Linked DNA regions of Homo sapiens. The protein of the gene in region 1 interacts with the protein of each later gene in a biochemical or structural test. Each region holds a gene or a part of one and is shown in the gene's direction. Other genes may lie near its edges.

Evidence for each region. The genes of interacting proteins can lie anywhere in the genome.
Region 2: the proteins of ITPR3 (region 1) and TRPC1 form a complex in vitro, tested with the Homo sapiens proteins (one study listed by BioGRID).

The regions. Positions count from the first base shown.
Region 1 is NC_000006.12:33,692,114-33,697,062, forward strand, and holds the end of ITPR3 (inositol 1,4,5-trisphosphate-gated calcium channel ITPR3), read left to right. Parts: intron 1-614; coding exon 615-780; intron 781-1,431; coding exon 1,432-1,592; intron 1,593-2,810; coding exon 2,811-2,972; intron 2,973-3,598; coding exon 3,599-3,667; 3' UTR 3,668-4,449; downstream 4,450-4,949.
Region 2 is NC_000003.12:142,774,464-142,783,671, forward strand, and holds part of TRPC1 (short transient receptor potential channel 1), read left to right. Parts: intron 1-3,168; coding exon 3,169-3,300; intron 3,301-6,370; coding exon 6,371-6,566; intron 6,567-9,208. UniProt on the Homo sapiens protein: Forms a receptor-activated non-selective calcium permeant cation channel. Forms a heteromeric ion channel with TRPC4 or TRPC5 that has reduced calcium permeability compared to the homomeric TRPC4 or TRPC5 channel.

The DNA.
Region 1 (4,949 bases):
CCCTCACCCTCCCATTCCATAAGGAAAGACTTTGGCAACCAAACTTTGCCCCAGGGCTAGGGATGGTGACCACTGGCTTTCCTAGCCCACAGCAGGTGGGCAGAGGGCGGAGCTGAGTCAGCTTTATCAGGAGGCCTCATGATTTGGCTTGGGCAGCCACATTCCCGAATGTCAGGCCTTCCCCTGTTGCTTGGGAGTGAGAGGCCGCCTCCCTGGCCAGACAGAGGGTTTCTGGAATGTGTGAGGCCAGGCGTCCTGAGGGTGGGCAGAGGTGTTCAGAGCTGCCTCTTTCCCTCATCAATGTTAGGGGCAGAGACACACCGAGACTCGTAGCCCTACCTCCCCGCCAGACTCCTTCTGCAGGCCTCCACCCCGGCGTGTCCTGAGTCCACGCTTTCCTAACCCAAACTCAGGGCTTCTGCTTGCAATTCTTGCTCTGTGGAGCCAGGTTGGGTCCACTCTGCCATCTGATGGCCCCCAGGCCAGAGGCCCTCATTTCCTTCTGCTAGGGGCTGGGTCCTCAATATCACAGCCCTGGCCCCAACCTGAGTCCTATCTTGCCCCAGTGAATGTGGGGACCACCGGGCCCAGCCTCCCTGCCTCATCCCCTGCAGGAGTCTCTCTTCCCAGCCCGAGTGGTCTATGACCTCCTGTTCTTCTTCATCGTCATCATCATTGTGCTGAACCTCATCTTTGGGGTAATCATCGACACCTTCGCTGACCTGCGTAGTGAGAAGCAGAAGAAGGAGGAGATTCTTAAGACGACATGCTTCATCTGTGGTGAGGGCTGCTTCCTGCTCTGTGGAGGCCGCAGCGGGGCTGGAACGTCATCTGATGCCAGTGGCAGTAGCGGTTTGGCCCTTCCTGCCCTGGGGAACCCTGGCCCGGAGCTGATGACTTGATGCATTTGCTCATCCCAGAACTGGGGAGAACATGACCCTGCCTGAACTTGGAGTCAGAAAGGAGTGGGACAGGCCCATCCCTGTAAACCCTTGGGGTTTCTAGGTGAGGACATGAGCCCAGTCAGTGTCTGGAGCTTCTGGTCTCAGTCCAGTGCTTTTCCTACCCCTGAAATGAAGTGCTAGTCCCCTCACCAGCCACCTCGGGCTCAGGCAGGTGTCACCTGTATGGCCTGTAGGACCTCGCTCATTCAGCCATTCGGGCTTCCCCTGAGTTCGAGAAATTCTCGCGTTTACTCCTGGAGTCCTCGGTTGCTGCTGCGGGAGGGCTGCAGCTGCGGCAGGGCAGGATCTCCACTAAGTGGCTGCTGCTTTAAATAGAAGTGACCCAAATAGCCCAGAGCGAGCTGTTGGAAGCGCTCATCCCGAGAACAAATGCCTCCAACCCCCGGAAGCTGGGTCCCCTCCAGCAGGTGACCCTGCAGTGGCTCTTGAAGGCTGATGGTTTCATTCCCGCCCTCTGCACCCTCAGGTCTGGAGAGGGACAAGTTTGATAACAAGACAGTGTCATTTGAGGAACACATCAAGCTGGAGCACAACATGTGGAACTACTTGTACTTCATTGTGCTGGTCCGCGTGAAGAACAAGACCGACTACACGGGCCCTGAGAGCTACGTGGCCCAGATGATCAAGGTGTGAGCAGGGGCTGTGCCAGGCCTGTGGGCCCAAACCAGCCATTCTAGAGTCATCACTGTGCACCAGAGGCCTCATGGTTTTAGCTTCTGAGTACCCTGGGCCCTGGAGAGGAGTGGCCCTATCTGACTGTTGGCCCTAGGAGGCCAGGCAGAGGGGCTCGGACAGCTGCAGACACTTGTTGAAAGGTCAGCAGGGCGAGGAGCAGCAGCTGGAAGCAGCTCTGGGCTGCACGGAAGCCGCTGCTGCAGAGGGGCCTCCTCACACTTCTGGGTGTCAGGAAAAATCCCACAGCAAACCCATGCGCCCCGAAGAACACGTGTGGTATCCCTGGGCCTGTCGTGCAGTGATGCTGAGGAGGGGTGGAGTTGGGGAGACCCTGCCCGTGGCCAGTGATCTGTGGGCCGCTCTCAGGGAGTGTTTTCTAGCTCGGTGGGAAGGCAGGCTGCTTCCTAAAAAGTCTGAATTAGATGATCCTGGGCTGAAGGGGAGCCTGGAAAAACTTTAAAAATCACTTACAGAAATCAAATGTCATCTGTCCAATTTCTGTAATAATGGAGTGAAGGCAATGAATCATAAAGAAGGAATTATTTATCGTTTAGTCTGTATTTCAAACTGATCTTTGTGTACAGGTTTATCTGTTGGTCTGAGAATTCACAGCTTACTACAAGGAAGCTGAGAATTGCTTGGTGCCCCCTCCCCCCCCGACTCCTCTGTCCTGGGAAACGTGGCTTTGCCTCCCAGACACGTGTCAGATGCCAGCTCTCCTCAGCGGAGCCTCCTGATCCCTCAATTTGCCATCTGTCTGACTCGCGTCTTCCCGGGGCGTGGGGCGTGCTTGTCAGGCAGGCGGGCGGGAGGAAGGAAGGAAGGAGATCCAGGGTCTGTCTGGGTGCAGAGGCCTTCCTCCACCTCTCAGGGGGTGTTATGAGAGTAAACAGATGGTGCTGATACCAGCAAAGGACTCAAACTCAGCTGCCGACGCTGCCTAACGGAAGTCAGCCTGTCTCGGTGGCAGAGGGTTGACAAGAGGGTTGACTGCCAGCTCACTCTGGCCCCGGGGAGGACCAGGTCAATTCAGATTTTCCCATGACACATCCCTGACGAGTAGTTTTGTTAAGGGTGTGGCAGAAGCCTCCCCCCACATTACTGTTTTTCTAAATGAGGCCTTTCTAGGCCGGGCCCACGCCTGCTTAACCCACTGGTGATGTTTTTCAGAACAAGAACCTGGACTGGTTCCCCCGGATGCGGGCCATGTCCCTTGTCAGCAATGAGGGCGAGGGGGAGCAGAATGAGATTCGGATTCTCCAGGACAAGCTCAACTCCACCATGAAGCTGGTGTCCCACCTCACTGCCCAGCTCAACGAGCTCAAGGAGCAGGTGTGCACCCCGCCTGATCCCAGGCCCACCCTGGGTTCTATCCCTGGGCAGTCCCTGCCTGCCTTCATCCTTCCTGACCCACCCTCTTCCCCACTGGCCTCTGGCCCTGGGCCTGGATGAGAAGGCAGGTGCCAAACCCACTCTCCCCTGCATGGCAAGTCAGACTGGGGTTGACAACCCCTGCCTTGGGCCGCTAAAGACAAGGCCAAGTGGAAACTTTAGTACAGGGTGGTGGGGCCCTCTGTCTCTCATCCCCTTCCTCTGACAGCTGCCAGGTAGGTCCTTTGAGGGGATCCCCATCACTGGAGATGGGGGAGTTTAAGGCCCTCTTGCCTAGACATCCTCTTCTGCATCTGGCAGTGCCTGCATGAAGATGAGGCAGCCTCTGTTAGTGGGCTGGTTTCCCAGCTGCATCAAATCCAGGGTTTGTGACACGCTAATTGAGAACAAGGGTTTGGTGCTGACATCGACATCCTTAAAGCACCCCGAGGGGCCCTGGCCCGCCGCCAGTGCCGAATAGCAGCTGGGCCCACAGGGGAAGACGGGTGCCAAGCTCTTCCACAGCACCCATGGAGGGAAGGTGCCAGGCGGCCTGACCAGGCCTGTTGGCATCTGCTTAACCCTAGATGACGGAGCAGCGGAAACGCAGGCAACGCCTAGGCTTTGTGGATGTCCAGAACTGCATTAGCCGCTGAGGAGAGCCACCGAAGGCCCCAACAGGGGATGCTCATCACTGGAGACTGCGACTGGGAAGAACACTGCCCCCTCCCTCGGGTTGGGTGGCCCAGCCAGCTGGCCAGCCTCCACTCCCACTCTGCCAGACACCCTGACACCCACCCAGGCTTTGAAGAGCATGGAGGGGGAGCCTCAGAGCTGACAGTCCTGCTTAGAGCCCTTAAAAAGACTTGAAAGTTCACTGGGACTCAGTTTACCTTAATGCCTTAGCAGAAGATAAATCCTACCTAGAGACCTTTGTTCCTTAAAGCAATAACTGACAACTCTTTGTAGTCCTCCTTGTGGGTAGTTAAGAGTGGGGTCACCCCTTTAACTCCAAGCACTACATTTTGGCGGCTGCCGGCCTCTGGGGGAGGTGGCAGTTATGCTGTTACTAGTGATTTTAGGGCTTTGTTATTTAACTTATTTCAAGGGTGCTGTGCTCAGCCCTGCCCATGGCTGTGCAGCTCCCTCCGTGCCTCAGATCTGCTGTAGCCAGTGCAGACCTCACTGTCGTGTCCATGCCACCCCCGGCATGGCTCCAGGTGGCCTGGTGACTCCATGATGGACGATCTTGCTCCCAGGACCTGCCTCTTCCCAGGCTTCCTGGGGAAGAGTTGTACGCCCAGGCAACAAGGGCTGAGCTGCGCTTGCGTGGCTGTTTCATGACCGCTTGTTTTTCTCCTTTTGGTGTAATGTTTTACAAATCCTTTGGCCTGAGAACTAATATGTTAATTGCCTTAAATAAATTAATAGAAATCTAGTCCGTTAAAAAGGGATGTGTTTCCTGCACTCCCCCGGGGGCTGTGGGGATTAACAGGACACACTGGCAGAAGACAGGAACAAGAGCCCCTCCCTGCTGGCCTGGCCTCTCAGGCTCTCAGGAGATACGCTGAGTGACATCCTGTCTCAAGGGTCCTCCCCTGAGATTTGCCTACCCAGAACTGCATTTCGGCATAACTGGTTTCTACGGCAGTCCTGTCGATTTTATTTTATGCATTTCAGAACATCCTGAGGAGTCTAGACACAGACGAGGTTAAGAACCCACTTCCACTTTGTACCCACCAGGGCCGCTGTGGGCCCAGCCCTGTCCCTCACGGTTCCAGAGAGAAGGATGCTCAATATCAGTAAGAGCCAAGGTTCCATGGAATAATGAGGTGACCCTGTGTGTGTCCTCAGCCAGCAGGGCCTCTGACTTGTGGCCACCTACAGAACCTGCCCACAGTGCTGAAGCCAACTGCAGCTGAGGCCCCGCTTGGCCAA
Region 2 (9,208 bases), on another chromosome or scaffold:
CTATAGGCTTTTGCCTCTCATTGAATTGATTTTGGCACCCTGGCATGAAACTACAAGTATACCAGCTACAGGATGGCAAAACTACAAACCTCATTGACTGAACTGGGGGCAGGGGTGATGGAGGCAGTTCTAGGCAAGGCTATTCCTGCCTGAAGCACTGGCAGTTTTTCAACAATCAACAATTCTCAATAAACAGTTTCCAGTGGCCTGAAATGGTTGGTCTTTTTGGATAATTTTGTTCAGTTTTATGTATTTTTTTTTTGTGGAGGGGAATTACTGACCTCTTCATACTGTTATTATTTTAATGGTGTTTTGAGTACCAAAATTGATAGATCTTATGAAAGAAGTGGCTTCATTATTCGTCAGATTATATCAAATGCTTTCCACACAATGGTGCTTCATTATAAGTCTAATACAAATGGTTACCAATCTTTTCATTCCACCATTATTGGAAGTTACTCTTGCTGTGCATTTTGTGATTAATCCTTACTATATCTTGAGACATGATAAAGTAGGTTAATACAAAAGCCTATTTTTGAAACAGTGTGATAAAATTAATTAATGTAGACATTGTTGGAAATGGATAAGTTGCACAATTACATATTATTTTTTTCTCAGTTTTTTGACAGTGTAGTATAGGTAAATATGTCTTCAGAAATCCTTAATATACTTATTAATTAACTAGATCATAACTGAATTTCATAAATATTGTTTTCTTAAAAATGCATTATATGGGATTACTTTTGTATCTAAGTAAGACATTAAACCTATAAGCTAAATAAGGACTATATCAATAAACTTGTTTAAATGAAGATTTGGAATTTCCGTATAGAAAAATTCATTACAACAAAGTAGAAAGATAAACAACAAACTGGATTAAAAGTATTTAAGTCGCCTGTAATCCCAGCACTTTGGGAGGCCGAGGTGGGTGGATCACTTGAGCCTAGGAGTTCAAGACCAGCCTGGGCAATATGGCAAAACCCCGTCTTTACTAAAAATACAAAAATTAGCCAGGTGTGGTGGCACGCACCTGTAATCCCAGCTACTTAGGAGGCTGAGGCAGGAGCATTGCTTGAACCCAGGAGGCGGAGGCTGCAGTGAGCAAAAGTTGCGCTGCTGCACTCCAGCCTGGTTAACTGAATGAGAGTGTCTCAAAAAAAAAAAGTATTTGAATCACTTTTGATTGGACAGTAGGCTAATTTCTTTGATATGTAGAAATCTTACAAATTGACTAAAAGCAGGATAAATAATCATTACAAAAAATGGGCCAAAGAATATGAACAGGCAAGTTACAGAGGAAGAAGTATAAATGAATATTAAACATGAAAAGATGCTCAGGCATCTAAAGAAATTCATTTTAAACCACCTATAAAATCCTATTTTCTGTTAGATTGAAATAGTAATACCCAGTATTAATGAAGCTGATGGAGAAAATGAGCTCTCCTTGTTATTATTGCTTTGGAAACATCTATCAGAATTTAAAATACAAATGCCATATTCCCTAGAAATTGAAAGTACACAAAAGATATGCAAACTGAAGAATATTCATTGCTGCATTTTTTATAGCAGAAAAAAATTAGAAGCCACCTAAATGTTCATTAATGGAGAGCTTATAGACCTCCGTCCAGTTGTATGAGATGAATCTGTATATGGTAACACAGAAAGAGATTCATGATATGTTACACTTTTTAAAAAGCAAGCTGTTCCTTTATTATGTCTGATTATGTTCGTGTGTGAGTAGAAAATATCAGGGAGGACATGCACAATTCTCTGTAAAATGACGAGTTTTGAGGATTGCAGTTGGGAGGTGATGGGAGGACATGGATGAGGGAGTATCATGTTTCCAAATTGCTTACCTTATGTTTTATAATAAGCATGTATTTAAATTTATATTAAAAGAAAAATATAATATCTACTAAATTTGTAAATTAAGAATTATATTAATAAATGAACTATAGCAAATTTTTCTGGTTTGTTTTCTATTTAGGTATGGAAATTTGAATATTAATTTATAGATGGCAAAGGGAGTGCTTTTTTACATTACAGACTGTGCATAAGTAAATGATTTCACTCTTAAGATTTGAAACATCTTTCAAACTCATAACCTGAATGAATGAAAAATGTATTATATATATTGAGCATATTAAAATATTTTTATGGTCTGGGCGCGGTGGCTCACGCCTGTAATCCCAGCACTTTGGGAGGCCGAGGTGGCTGGATCACAAGGTCAGGAGATCGAGACGATCCTGGCCAACATGGTGAAACCCCGTCTCTACTAAAAATACAAAAATTAGCCAGGCGTGGTGGCACATGCCTGTAATCCCAGCTACTTGGGAGGCTGAGGCAGGAGAATCACTTGAACCAGGGAGTCGGAGGTTGCGGTGAGCCGAGATCGTGCCATTGCACTCCGGTCTGGTGACAGAGTGAGACTCCATCTCAAAAAAAAAAGAAAAAAAAAGTATTTTTATTACTGAGAGAGAAAGAAAAGATTTATTAGTCATCAAATCCACATCATATTAAAAATTTATGTTATTAGCATATTTTATTTAAAATTATGTTGGGTTCAAACCAGGCACAGTGGCTCACACCTGTAATCCCAGCACTTTGGGAGGCCAAGATGGGAGGATAACTTGAGGCCAGGAGCTTAAGACTAGCTGGGCCACATAGCATGACCCTGTCTCTATAAAAATTTTAAAAATTAGCCTGGTGTAGTGGCATGCACCTGTAATCACAAGGCTGAAGTGGGAGGATCCCTTGGCCCAGGTGTTCGAGACTAAGGCAAGCTGTGATCACTCCACTGCACTCTGGCCTGGGTGACAGAGCGAGACCCTGTCTTTTAAGTTAAAAAAAAGTTGGTCCAGAAATATGAATTTAATTAAACTGGATTAAACAAAAATCTTTATATTATACCAAAGGCATTTTGAATCTATGAAAAGAGACAGTAAAAAAATTTTCTAAAAAGCAATAGATAGCAAGGTTTTTCAATATTTATATCTCAAAATATTTGTTTTAAGTCTTTTTATGGAGGTTATCTTGTAATAAATATATCTGTAGTTTTTCTTTTAATTTTATAATATTTTAAGTATACATTTATGAAAATTATAGATTAAAATACGAATTATATGTGTATAAGTTTATTTTACATTATGGAATCCAATTTTATCACAGGTTTCGTCTTGATATATATCGATGTTTGGCCAGTCCAGCTCTAATAATGTTAACAGAGGAGGATCCAATTCTGAGAGCATTTGAACTTAGTGCTGATTTAAAAGAACTAAGTCTTGTGGAGGTGGAATTCAGGTGGGAATGAATGCAAATTATATAATGTATTTTGTTTTAAATCTTCAACCTCAGTTTCTTCATTACCCAAATTATAATTTGTATATATTTACATTTGATCCAAGAACACTACACCTTGTTGCCACTTACTTGGCAACAGACCCCTGCTCTCCCTCAAAGGAACAGACCCTGGTGCTACTTAAGTCATTCCTTCCCCATCTGCCCTCTGCCACCCTATAAACACCTTTAATCTCTTCCCCACTTTTCAACCTAACCAAAGGCATTGTAGAGCAGTATGAAATACAGTAGGATTATAGCCTAAAGCAGGAGCAAATTTATTCATAGTTGCTCTCTCTCTCACACATATCTCCTCATTCTCTGACTCTATAATCATCCTTGAGTAATGATCCTTCAGATCTTTCAAAAGCATATGGAATGCTTTCTGTATGTCAAGGACATTCCACACACAGACATAGTCCCTTTTCACTATTTGCTCAGATTTTCTGGTAAGAGAAATAATATATGTAATACATGTAAACATAAAAATAAAATACAACTAATTAAGAGGGATGAACACCCAGTCTGAGTTCTCTTCTGAAATGAAGATTAAATGTAATTTTGGCACTTGGCATACCAAAGAAGCACTCCTATTATTTTCCTTTAGGGGGGTAAGTTGAAAAAAAAAAAGACTTTGTAATAGCAGCCTATGAAACTACTAATTTAAATATTGTTTTTAAAAAAATCCTTAGAAAACTACTTTTATTAATAGTAGAGTTGAGAGAAAGCGTTGAGATTTTCCTTTATGGAAAAGTATCCCTGTTGCCCTCTAAAGAAGGAGGAATTGATTACGATTTTTTACTAGCCCCTGTTGCAAGGTTTCTACTGGGGATCTATAACTATTCCTACCTTTTCTTTCCTATACGGCTGCTATTAGAGCCCCATGTCTTGTGTGACACTCTTTCAGTGACTTGACAAAATTGGGAAAGTTCAAATTTCTACTTCCTGGAAGGGCAGTAAGAAACTTGGAGTTTTCTTTAGCTTTAACAGCAGTACTTAATGTGTTCTTCATAGACCTGAGTTCCAGAAACTGAAAAAAGACCTGTTTATATTTTCAAGTTTGGAACTACTGTCTTGTAACTTGGATAATTTAAATTTTGTTTAAACTTGATATGACATGAAGTATGTACTTTACTTTGATGAACACACAAAACATGGTTCAAATGTAACTTGTTGCTACTTTTAACTTTATTAGCACATGAGGCTGTTAAATTATTCTGTTTAAATATGAAAAACTTCCTATTGTAACCTCATAATTTGAGTCTGAGTTATATAAAATAAAACTTACTCAACTCCTTTCAAACAGGATTTGAAGAAACTGCTATGATTATATAATCATAAAATAATAAAGTTAGATTTGGAAGCGATCATAGAAACCCATTTACTTCAATCCAGTGTTTTATAGACAGGGGAGGAGATTTATAAAGGCTAGATTTTTACTAATAGCAGCATCTAATTAGGAATAGAGTTAAAACTAAAAGTAGGAGCAAAGTTATAACTAGAATATATGACTCCTTGCTTCTGGTTTTCTATATTTCCATCTAAACTATACAGCCACTTATTTGTCTTCAGTAATCTATTAGAAATGAATTAGATTAATAAGATGTATAAATTTCACCTTTGAATCTCGTAGTCCATCAAATGTTTATCCAAAGATGGAATATTTTTGTAATAATATATACTTCTGATAAACATTCCAGTCTGCAGTTAGATTCCTAAATCAAGAAGCAGGGAGTGCCGCATTTGTTAAATAAATCCAATTACTTATTTTCAGGAGTTTTGACTACATAGAATGTATAAAGAATGATGAGAGAAATTAAGGCAAAGAAGTTTTTATTCTTAAGTTATGATTTTTATATAGCCAGTTCCTGGAAAGCCCCATTATATAGAAAGACTAACCAGTGGGAAATCTTCCTGTTTCCCCTTCCTTTCAGTTTGGGAAAAAACTGAATAAAAACATTATTTTCTGAAGCCCAACCTCAAGACTATGACTCATAATTATTTATTTCTGACTTCATTCTTAAGTTATGATTAAGCTTAGACATAAAGTTAATGTAATTGATTTTTTTTTTTTTTTTTTTTTGGAGACCCAGGCTGGAGGGCAGTGGCACCATTTTGGCTCACTGCAACCTCCCCTCCTGGGTTCAAGCAATTCTCCCTGCCTCAGCCTCCTGAGTAGCTGGGATTACAGGCACCTGCCACCATGCCTGACTAATTTTTGTATTTTTTAGTAGAGACAGGGTTTTGCCATGTTGGCCAGGCTGGTCTTGAACTCCTGACCTCAGGTGATCACCCGCCTTGGCCTCCCAAAGTGCTGGCATTACAGGCCTGAGCCACCGCACCCAGCCGTAATTGATATTTTTTAAAAGAATTATATACTAAAACTTCTTCATTTCTCACAAATTAGTTTAGGCCTGCCTTTAATAAGCAGTTCAAACCCAAGATTCAAGGAATAGGGATTCTGAAAGAGAGGTTTTTGTTAGGCGCATTTTAATATCTTTCTTTCTAATTTGAATTTCACTCAAATGAGCACTTTAAATATGAATCAAAATGCTATTTTAATATTAGAAGTAACATAAACATATTGTAGATGACTATTGAAAAAGCTCTAGTTAAAAATTTTATGATAATGATTGGATAGCATTAAGATATTATGTCTATTGTTAAGGTGAGTAATATAAAAGGAAGTTTTAGCCAAGCTTACAGAGAATAAGGGAAAATGAGTTAAGCGAAGAACTGGTTGACAAATATTATTAGAATTTTTAGGAATAACATCAGTATATATAAATGAACACTGTGCTCATCTAAGATTATTAGTATGAACACAGGGAACATAATTGTGTTATGGTTTTCCCCAAAGCTGTGGAAAATTCGTGCATCACTAGTTTCCTTTGATTATCCACAGAAAATGACTTCAGATTTTGTGTAACACTGTCAGAATTAAAATGTTGCTGAGTAAAAACGTTTTTAGTGAATATAGCTTAATTAGAAGATGGAAACGACGTTTCTGATAATAGAATGCTGCATTTTATAGGAATGATTATGAGGAACTAGCCCGGCAATGTAAAATGTTTGCTAAGGATTTACTTGCACAAGCCCGGAATTCTCGTGAATTGGAAGTTATTCTAAACCATACGTCTAGTGACGAGCCTCTTGACAAACGGGGATTATTAGAAGAAAGAATGAATTTAAGTCGTCTAAAACTTGCTATCAAATATAACCAGAAAGAGGTATGAGGCTTTCTGTAATATATTTAAATTATTTTCTCTACAGTAGTCTAGTGGCTCAGGGCAAAGGCTTTGGAGTAACTCATCTGGGTTAAGATCCTAGTTCTGCTTCCTAAAAATTGTGTGTCTTGGGATAGTTATTGAATCTGTTTGAGCTTTTGTTTTAATAATTAATTAAGAATATATACTAAAAGGGTTTAGCACAGTAAGTATTAGCATTAAGCAAGTATGCAATAAATGGTAGTTTTTATTATTTTTAGTAATATTGATTATAATTATAACATGGATGTTGATTTAATGTTTTTGCTAAATAGTTGCTACACAGGTAAGATCCTTTGTAGTAGGTACAAACTTTATAGTGAAGTTTCCATCTTGTGTTTTGTCTGTCACAGGTTGGTTTTCATTGATCTGGTTATAAATAGCCCCTTCTATAGTAATAGTGATTTCTATTTAAAAATAAAGTATCAGATACTATATTTCCTGATTCCTCTTATTTATAATTCATTGTGAAACTCAAAAGTGGAGAGGTACATGATATGATAACTAAGTTGAATCTGACTTTTCTGGCATCATCCCTTTCTATTAAGAGATATGCCCATTTCTACTCCCCATGCATACATATACATATGATCCAGGAACTTGAATCAGGAAAATATGCATTTTAAATTTCATTTTTGAGATAATTAACTAAACAGTGATATTCATATGTAGATAATAATAATATCTAATTGATAGTATGGGATGTTGATAAATGGTATTTATTAGGTATTACTTCTAAGACTATTTTCATTGTTAACATAGATGTTTAAATAAAACTTGCTTATCAAATTTATATTATTACAAAAATAGGGCCTGAAATATATAATGATAGAAGGCCAGATACAGGACCTTTGGTGCTAAGGGCAGAATTTTTTCTTACCTTGGTTAAAAATTTGAGCCTCACAAAGTTATTAGGAAATTGATGGAGGAATTGATGGAGGATGTTTATTGGTTAATATATTTGCTTCTGTGTTCCACAACCTAAAAGGGACATGAAGTCCTAGAAAATGATAGAATAAGGGGATTACATGGTATAAAATCAATTAAAGTGATTTAAAAAAAGAACCTCAAAGAAAGGCGTAAAGAACTAAAATTATCCTGTTTAGGAAAAAAAATCTTAAGAGGTAATTTTCTAATGATAGCTATATCCCTGAAGGACTCACAGAGTGGAGTCCAAATGGAACCAAATGTACCATTCTAAAGAAGATGAAAGAAAAGACAAGAAGTAGTAGTAATATTTGTTAGTTGAAAGGAAGATATTTTGCGATTTTAAAGATGAATGAAAATGTAAAGTAGTTTTTAAAACTAGATTTCTAAATACGATCAGTGGGGAAGATATTTTCTCAAATAGTTGGTAAGCTTTGTTTAGGTTATCAATCTTGAATAGCAAACTACTCTGAAACTTAGTGGCATAAAACACTTCATAGTTATTTTATAATAATTTCATAATCATTTTATTATGCTCTTGGATTCTTAGGTCAGGAATTAGGAAAGGGCATGGCAATCATGATTTTTCTCTGCTTCTCCGTGTCTGGGAACTCATCTGGAGATAAATGACAGGGCTATAATCAGCTGGGGGCTTCTCCACTCACATGTCTGGTGTCTGAGCAGCAGCTGAGGCCTCAGGAACAGGGTGCTCAGATGGGTGAGTCCACAGAAGGTGGGGCTCCTGAGAACTCACAACAGGAACCAAGGAGAGGCATGGCCATCACAATGGGCAGACTTTGAGGATGTGGTCTGAGAAGCCTCTGCGGGCTGGCTGGGGTACATACATGTGACCTCTGTGTGCAGCCTGGGCTTCCTCACAGCATGGTGGCTTCAGAGTGGCTTTTTACATGGTAGTTCATGGCTCCAAGAGCAGGTGTTCCAGTGAGCAAGGTGGAAGATGCGTAGCCTTTTAGGACCTACCTTCAGAAGTCACATAGCATCACCTCTGTTAGAATCTACTAGTTAAATCAATCACAAGCCTGTTGAATTGAAGAGTAGGAAATTTTGACTTCCTCCTTCCCCACCTCTTGATGATGGGAAGAAAGCGTGTCCATCTTTCACTGCAGACTTAGAACATTTCTAGTTAAACTTTTTATTCCAAATACATAGTTAACATTACTGCAAATTAAATTGTCATTGTATAGAGGGATAGCAAGGACAGTAATCAGTCCTGAGATTGCTTTGATATTTGGAGGAAAGGTGACACTACTAAATTTGAGATTTACTAAACCTGGTCATTGGTGAGAGGAAAAGCTGTTTCTCTCCCAGGCATTTCACCTTGAGGGACAAATTAAGATTTCCCAAGAACATTGGAATCTGAGCAGAAGAGTAAAGAATGAAGTATTGCCAAAAATAAGTATTTGCATATAACATACACACATCTTCCCATATACTTTAAAGTATCTTTCAATTACTTATAACACCTAATACAGTGCCTACACATCATTTCATTCATGTGGATTCAACATAGTACTTGCTGTGAAGAATATTCAAGTTTTGCTTATTTGGAACTTTGTGAATTTTTTCTTCCAAATATTGTTGATCCATGGTTGGTTTAATCCACAGATGTAGGACACAGAGATACAGAGGGCCAACTCTACAGTATACTAGAAATTTTC